Linked DNA regions of Homo sapiens. The protein of the gene in region 2 interacts with the protein of the main gene of each other region in a pairwise test. Each region holds a gene or a part of one and is shown on either strand. Other genes may lie near its edges.

Region 1 (3,809 bases), on a different chromosome or scaffold from region 2:
GGCTTGCCGGAACCAGGGCTGGGGCCATGGGCCGCCTTCCGGAGGTCGCCCAGCTTGCGCCGCACGACGGCTCGTAGGTCCCGCCACTTGTGCTTCAGGTCCACAACGTCGCGGCGACAGTAGCCCAGCGCATTCACGGCCTGCAGGATGCGGCTCCACACGCGGTACCTGCGAGTGGGCTCGGCCTTCAGCAGCCCCGTGCCAAACAGCAGCTGGTGGTGCTTGCTCACCTTGGACACCAGCACCTCGGTCTCCTGCGGGCAGAAGTTGGGCTTCCTCTTCTTGGCCCGGGTAGTGCTGGGCCCCGCCATCCGGCCATGGGGCCCAGCAGCCGAGTCCTTCCTCGGGCCAATGGTGGGTGATGAGGTGGGCTCCGGCATCCGGCTGCCTTCAGGGGCAACCCCAGGCCCTGGAAAGGCACCAAAAGGCGGATGTTTAAGGCCCTGGGCCTGTGGAGGCAGCGGCCCCGGCGGCAGCTCCCTACGGCGCCTCCTCTCTGGTTTCTGCTTCAGGACACGGCTGCCTGGTCCTGGCCACCACCCCTCCCTGCTGGGTGTCCAGAGACCTGGGCCCACGATCCCCTAGCCCTGACACTGCCTCACCAGGTGCCATCAGCAAGCACGTAGCTTCTGGGTCACAGTGCCCCATCTCCAAGACAGCACACCACTAGCCCTGCCTGCCCCTGCAGCCACCACAGAGGTGCAGGAGCCGAGCAGGCTAGGTTGCGGCCCTGGACCCTCTCCAGGGTTTCCTGCCCTCAGGCCAGGGCTGGGCTGCTCCCGGGATCAGCCCTCGCCTGGGGACAGCCTTGCCAGCTGACATTTTGGAAGGCTCCTGCCTACCTGCCCACAGCACAACTAAGAGCCCTCTGAGCACAGGCCTCGGCTTCCCTCCCACACTTGGGCCAGGGCCGGTGGGGACACGGTGGCCAGCCTCGACTTCCCCTCCCGCACTTGGGCTGAGGCCGGTGGGGACGTGGTGGCCTGGTCGGCAGCCTCACCCCCCTACCATCCTGTGCCTCCACAGCCCTCCATCCTGCAAGGGAACAGGGCTGCACTGGCAACAGTGGCAAAGTCTCTGCGTCTTTGCTCACAGACGAGCTTTTTCACTAACCGGACCAGCTTCCTGAAGGCAGGGACAGTGCCCGACACTGCAGGTTCCCTGGTGCTGCATGTCTGAGCCCCCAAGGAGAAGCACTCAAGTACAGGCCTCTCCCTGGGGGCCTGGTGTCCCAGAAGGACCTGGAAGGGGCCCCTCCACCAGGAGGGAAGCCCACCAGGATACCTGCAGAGGTCACCGCACCTGTTCCTCCCCAAACCACAGCAAGCACTCTGCCACCCCTCACCGGCCCACTGCACAAGGACAGTCGGGCTTGAGGGTGAGGGGCCACAAGAGCAGGTCCAGAGCCCCCAGCGGGAGCACCCCTGCTCAGTCCTGAGCCTACAGGGTTGGCCAGCTCTGGCCACCACACAGCTTCCATCCTGTGGCCTGTATGGGCCGGCTGCACCCTTGACCCTACTCAGGGGAAGGCCTGGCAGGGGGCAGGGGATGCAGGTCCCTTGCCTCCTGGTCCCAGCCTCCTCCCTGCAGCTCCCACCTGCTGACCCTGCCCTCCTCAGCACCTGCATCTCCAAGCCGCCTTCCCAGGACCCCTGAGACCCAGCGTCTGAGTGAAGTACCTCGCTTCCTGGCCCTTGGGACAATAGGCGTGCCTGCTGGCCCCAGATCACCTTCCCCGTCCTTCCCCACACAGCGGTTCTGCAGCTTGCTCTCTGGCGACGGGCAGGGGAAATGGCGGATTCCATACTCGGTCCAACATCTAGCGCACTCTACGGACAGCAAGGGACAGTCACGATTACTCTCAGCTCAGGGCGCTCCTGGCAGTGCCAGGCCCCCATGCACGGACAGCAGACACCCAGGACCCGAGATGCTCCACTCAGGGCTCCTCCTCCAGGAAGCCCTCCCTGCCTGCTATATCCTCTGGATCATCCCCCTTCTGCTGAATGCCAGCAAGGAGTTCAGAACTTTAGGTGTTCCGGACTTTTCTCTGAACCAGTTCTGAAATGTGACTGCAAACTAGCAAACAACCCCCAGGGCTTGCAGGGGTAGCCACAGATTAATCCCTGGACAGCTATTACCAGTCAGCAACAAAGTACAAAATGGGAAGTGCGGCTCCAGCATCGTTTAAGGCAATTTGAAACTGCTGCGACCTCCACGCTCAGAATCATTCTACTGCATTTTATAAAAGTGCCACTCCGTAGCGTATGGGAGATGAAAAGCAAAGCCACACTGCTGTCCCCACTCGGCTTTGCGGAGGCAGAGACGCGTGCTCCCCATCTCCCGGCTCCCAGCCCCCGCACGGAACGCATCGTAATTTTCTCTAATTATTTCCATTTGTTCACAAAACATTTCTGGACACATTTCATTGAAATTCATTGATCCTCAGATGCACCTTATAAAAGCCTTTTAAAATCTCCAGAACCACGATGTGCCTTTCGATCCACGGCACCCCAGAGTCACAGACACGCCGTGTGCGCCAGGCTGAGGCCTCCGAAGCCAGACCCCGCGTGCCTGTCTGCAACCTGTTCTTCCCGGGACGTGTCCTGGTAGGTCACAAGGATGCTGCTGGCTTGGAAGCGCTTTCCAGCCACATCCGCGGCCTCCAGGGCCAGGTCGGCACAGTGGGTCCCAGGGCTGCATCCTTGAGCCAAGCGCCTGAAGCAGCAGCTCTTGGAAAAGGCCCTTCATACAACCCTCAGAGAAGTGACACTAGGGGCCGCCCTGGTGAGCTCCCTCTCAGGATCCGTCTAGGGGGACCCTACAGCCCAACGTGACAGGGAGGGAAGGACTTTCCCAAAGCCTCTCATCGGACCCCCACGAGGTGGGCGAGGGCCCAAAGGCTACCTGGTCCATCCTCCTGCCCCCAGACAGCACTGCCCAAACCACACAGGCAGAGACAGGCCTACGGCCACACAGACTCAGGAAAGGGCCTCCAGTGCCCAGCTCACTGCTCTGGACTGGGGCACGCTCACCCTCCAGCTCTGGGCCCTGGTGGGGGGAAGAGGGAGAAGCCTGCAGAAGGACGGGAGGGCAGCTGCCTGGCTCATTTCGGGGCGGAGGTTTCCGCAGGGCAGAGAAGTGCAGCAAAGTAGATCAGAGTCAGAAGACAACCCTCTGGAGGGGATGGAGAGGGAGCAGCCGCAGCCTGGAGACAGACACTGCCCTGGGAAAACCAGGCACCCACGAAGAGGCACTGACCAAGGCCCGGAGGGGGCCCAAGTCACAGAGGGAGGGATCCCAAGTCACAGACGCCTCTCAGTGTTTGATGAAGTGAGCCTCCAGCATGGGTCCCCCTCCCAAGAGGGCAGGGCCTGTCCCTCCAGCTCCCGGCAGGCCCTTCTCCCCTGGCATCCACACCATCCTCTCTCTGCACAGAGACACACTCTCCAAGCTGGAAACCCCGGACAATGGCCTGTGAGGGGATCCAGGCACTTGGTGACTGAGCTCAGCCTCTGCTCAGAAATGGGGTCCCACAGGCCCCCAGAGAGACCACAGGCCCTGCTGTCACTCAAGGACACGCCATCACCTCGCCACACTGCATCCGCTCACCCAAGTCCAGAAGGACACGCCATCACCTCGCCACACTGCATCCGCTCACCCAAGTCCAGAAGGACACGCCATCACCTCGCCACACTGCATCCGCTCACCCAAGTCCAGAAGGACACGCCATCACCTCGCCACACTGCATCCGCTCACCCAAGTCCAGAAGGACACGCCATCACCTCGCCACACTGCATCCGTTCACCCAA
Region 2 (3,809 bases):
AAACCTGAGAAAAACAAGCAATGGGGAAAGGATTCCCTATTTAATAAATGGTGCTGGGAAAACTGGCTAGCCATATGTAGAAAGCTGAAACTGGATCCCTTCCTTACACCTTATACAAAATCAATTCAAGATGGATTAAAGATTTAAACGTTAGACCTAAAACCATAAAAACCCTAGAAGAAAACCTAGGCATTACCATTCAGGACATAGGCGTGGGCAAGGACTTCATGTCTCTTCGGAAAATTTCTACCTTTCAAGTAGAATTATATCATAGCTATTTTTATTTTTTAATCTCAGAATGGATACTATTGGGCACCAAAACTAAGAGTACTCCAGACTTACATCCCTCCTCAAAAGCAACTAATGAGCTGGCAAAAACTGTCAGAATAAACTTTTGCAGAACTCTGGAATCTAGTAAAATTGTTACAATAACCAGAGAGGAAGACTTGGTGAAGAAAAGAACTGATGCTTTGTAGTAAGAGGATACTGTGACATTTTAAAGTGGCTGCCTACCATCCTCCACATCCCAGATCAGTAGAGGCTGTGAGGACAGCCGCCTACACTCTACTATATACAATAATAGAGCCTACACTCTAATATACAGCCTATATCCTAACATACTAATATACACATAACGGGGCTTCCAAAGTGAGAGGAAAGAGAGGAAAAACAGAAAGAGTATTTGAAAAAATGATGGCTAAAAAACTTCATACATTTGGTAAAAAATATGAATCTAAACATCCAAGAAGTGCAATGAACTCCAAATAGAATAAACTAAAAGATATCCACAATCAGACACATTATAGTCAAATTGCCAAAAAACAAAAAGAAAATCTTGAAAGCAGGAAAATTGACTTTTTACATAACAAAAAAAAAACAATAAGACTAACAGCTGATTTCTCTTAAGAACCCACAGAGGCTAGAAGGCAGTGAAATGTGATATTTAAATTGCTGAAAGAAAAAGAAAAACATCTGTCAACACATATACAGAACTCTATGTCCAGCAACACTATACTTCAAAGAATGAAAGCGAAAACAAGACATTCTCAGATAAACAAAAACTGAGGGAGCTGATCACTAGTAGAATTGCCCTTCAAGAAATGCCAAAGGGCATTCTTTAGAAAAACTGAAAAGGCACTCACTGTAACCCACGCTATACAAAAAAATAAGAACACTGGTAAACTATACAGGTAGCTACAAAAGCAAGTAATATTGAGTTTTACGTTTTTTTTAACTCTTTTTACTATCTAATTTAAAGGAAAAAATGCATAAAACAACAATGATAAATCTACGTTAAGGAGTATACAATGTATAAAGATGTAATTTGTGATAATAGCATAAAGGGGGCAACAGAGCTGTAAACGGCTGGGTTTTGTATACTATTAAATTAAGCTGGTATTCAACAGGATCATTCCAAGATGGCTGAATAGGAACAGCTGCAGTCTACAGCTCCCAGCGTGAGCAACACAGAAGACAGGTGACTTCTGCATTTCCAGCTGAGGTACGAGGTTCATCTCACTGGGACTGGTTGGACAGTGGGTGCAGCCCATGGAGTGTGAGCCGAAGCGGGGCGGGGCATCACCTCACCCAGGAAGCACAAGGGGTCTGGCAATTCCCTTTCCTGGCCATGGGAAACTATGACAGATTGCACCTGGAAAATCGGGACACTCCCGCCCTAATACTGTGCTTTTCCAATGGTCTTAGCAAATGGAACACCAGGAGATTATATCCCATGCAAGGCTCGGTGGGTCTCACGCCCATGGAGCCTTGCTCACTGCTAGTACAGCAGTCCGAGATAGAATTGTGAGGCAGCAGCAAGACTAATAAAGAAGAAAAGAGAGAAGAATCAAATAGACGCAATAAAAAAATGATAAAGGGGATATCACCACTGATCCCACAGAAATACAAACTACCTTCAGAGAATACTATAAACATCTCTATGCAAATAAACTAGAAAATCTAGAAGAAATGGATGAATTCCTGGACACATACACCATCCCAAGACTAAATCAGGAAGAAGTTGAATTCCTGAATAGACCAATAACAGGCTCTGAAATTGAGGCAATAATTAATAGTCTACCAACCAAAAAAAGTCCAGGACCAGATGGATTCATACCCGAATTCTACCAGAGGTACAAAGGGGAGCTGGTACCATTTCTTCTGAAACTACTCCAATAAATAGTAAAAGAGGGAATCCTCCCTAACTCATTTTATGAGGCCAACATCATCCTGATACCAAAGCCTGGCAGAGACACAACAAAGAAAAAAAAGAGAGAGAATTTTAGACCAATATCCCTGATGAACATTGATGCAAAATCCTCAATAAAATACTGGCAAACCGAATCCAGAAGCACATCAAAAAGCTTATCCACCAAGATCCAGTTGGCTTCATCCCTGGGATGCAAGGCTGGTTCAACATATGCAAATCAATAAACGTAGTCCATCATATAAACAGAACCAAAGACAAAAACCACATGATTATCTTAATAGACACAGAAAAGGCCTTTGAAAAAGTTCAACAGCCCTTCATTCTAAAAACTCTCAATAAACTAGGTATTGATGGAATGTATCTCAAAATAGTAAGAGCTATTTATGACAAACCCACAGCCAATATCCTACCGAATGGGCAAAAACTGGAAGCATTCCCTTTGAAAACTGGCACAAGACAGGGATGCCCTCTCTCACCACTCCTATTCAACAACATATTGGAAGTTCTGGCCAGGGCAATCAGGCAGGAGAAAGAAATAAAGGGTATTCAATTAGGAAAAAAGGAAGTCAAATTGTCCCTGTTTGCAGATGATATGATTGTATATTTAGAAAACCCCATCATCTCAGGCCAAAATCTCCTTAAGCTGATAAGCAACTTCAGCAAAGTCTCAGGATACCAAATCAATGTGCAAAAATCACAAGCATTCGTATACACCAATAACAGACAAACAGAGAGCCAAATCATGAGTGAACTCCCATTCACAATTGCTTCAAAGAGAATAAAATACCTAGGAATCCAACTTACAAGGGATGTGAAGGACCTCTTCAAGGAGAACTACAAACCACTGCTCAATTAAATAAAAGAGGACACAAACAAATGGAAGAATATTCCATGCTCATGGATAGGAAGAATCAATATCATGAAAATGGCCATACTGCCCAAGGTAATTTATAGATTCAATGCCATCCCCATCGAGCTACCAATGACTTTCTTCACAGAATTGGAAAAGGCTACTTTAAAGTTCATGTGGAACCAAAAAAAGAGCCTGCATTGCCAAGACAATCCTAAGCCAAAAGAACAAAGCTGGAGGCATCATGCTACCTGACTTCAAACTATACTACAAGGCTACAGTAACCAAAACAGTATAGTACTGGTACCAAAAAAGATATATAGACCAATGGAACAGAACAGAGCCCTCAGAAATAATACCACATATCTATAACCATCTGCTCTTTGTCAAACCTGACAAAAACAAGAAATGGGGAAAGGATTCCCTATTTAATAAATGGTGCTGGGAAAACTGGCTAGCCAGATGTAGAAAGCTGAAACTGGATCCCTTCCTTACACCTTATACAAAAATTAATTCAAGATGGATTAAAGACTTAAATGTTAGACCTAAAACCTTAAAAACCCTACAAGAAAACCCAGGCAATACGATTCAGGACATAGGCATGGGCAAGGACCTCATGACTAAAACACCAAAAGTAATGGCAAGAAAAGCCAAAATAGACAAATGGGATCTAATTAAACTAAAGAGCTTCTGCACAGCAAAAGAAACTACCATCAGAGTGAACAGGCAACCTACAGAATGGGAGAAAAT

What was found.
Region 1: the proteins of ZDHHC15 (region 2) and TSNARE1 interact in a two-hybrid assay, tested with the Homo sapiens proteins (one large-scale study listed by BioGRID).

Annotation. Positions count from the first base shown.
Region 1 is NC_000008.11:142,344,064-142,347,872, forward strand, and holds part of TSNARE1 (t-SNARE domain-containing protein 1), read right to left. Parts: intron 1,830-3,809; coding exon 1,680-1,829; intron 410-1,679; coding exon 1-409.
Region 2 is NC_000023.11:75,513,012-75,516,820, forward strand, and holds part of ZDHHC15 (palmitoyltransferase ZDHHC15), read right to left. Parts: intron 1-3,809. UniProt on the Homo sapiens protein: Palmitoyltransferase that catalyzes the addition of palmitate onto various protein substrates.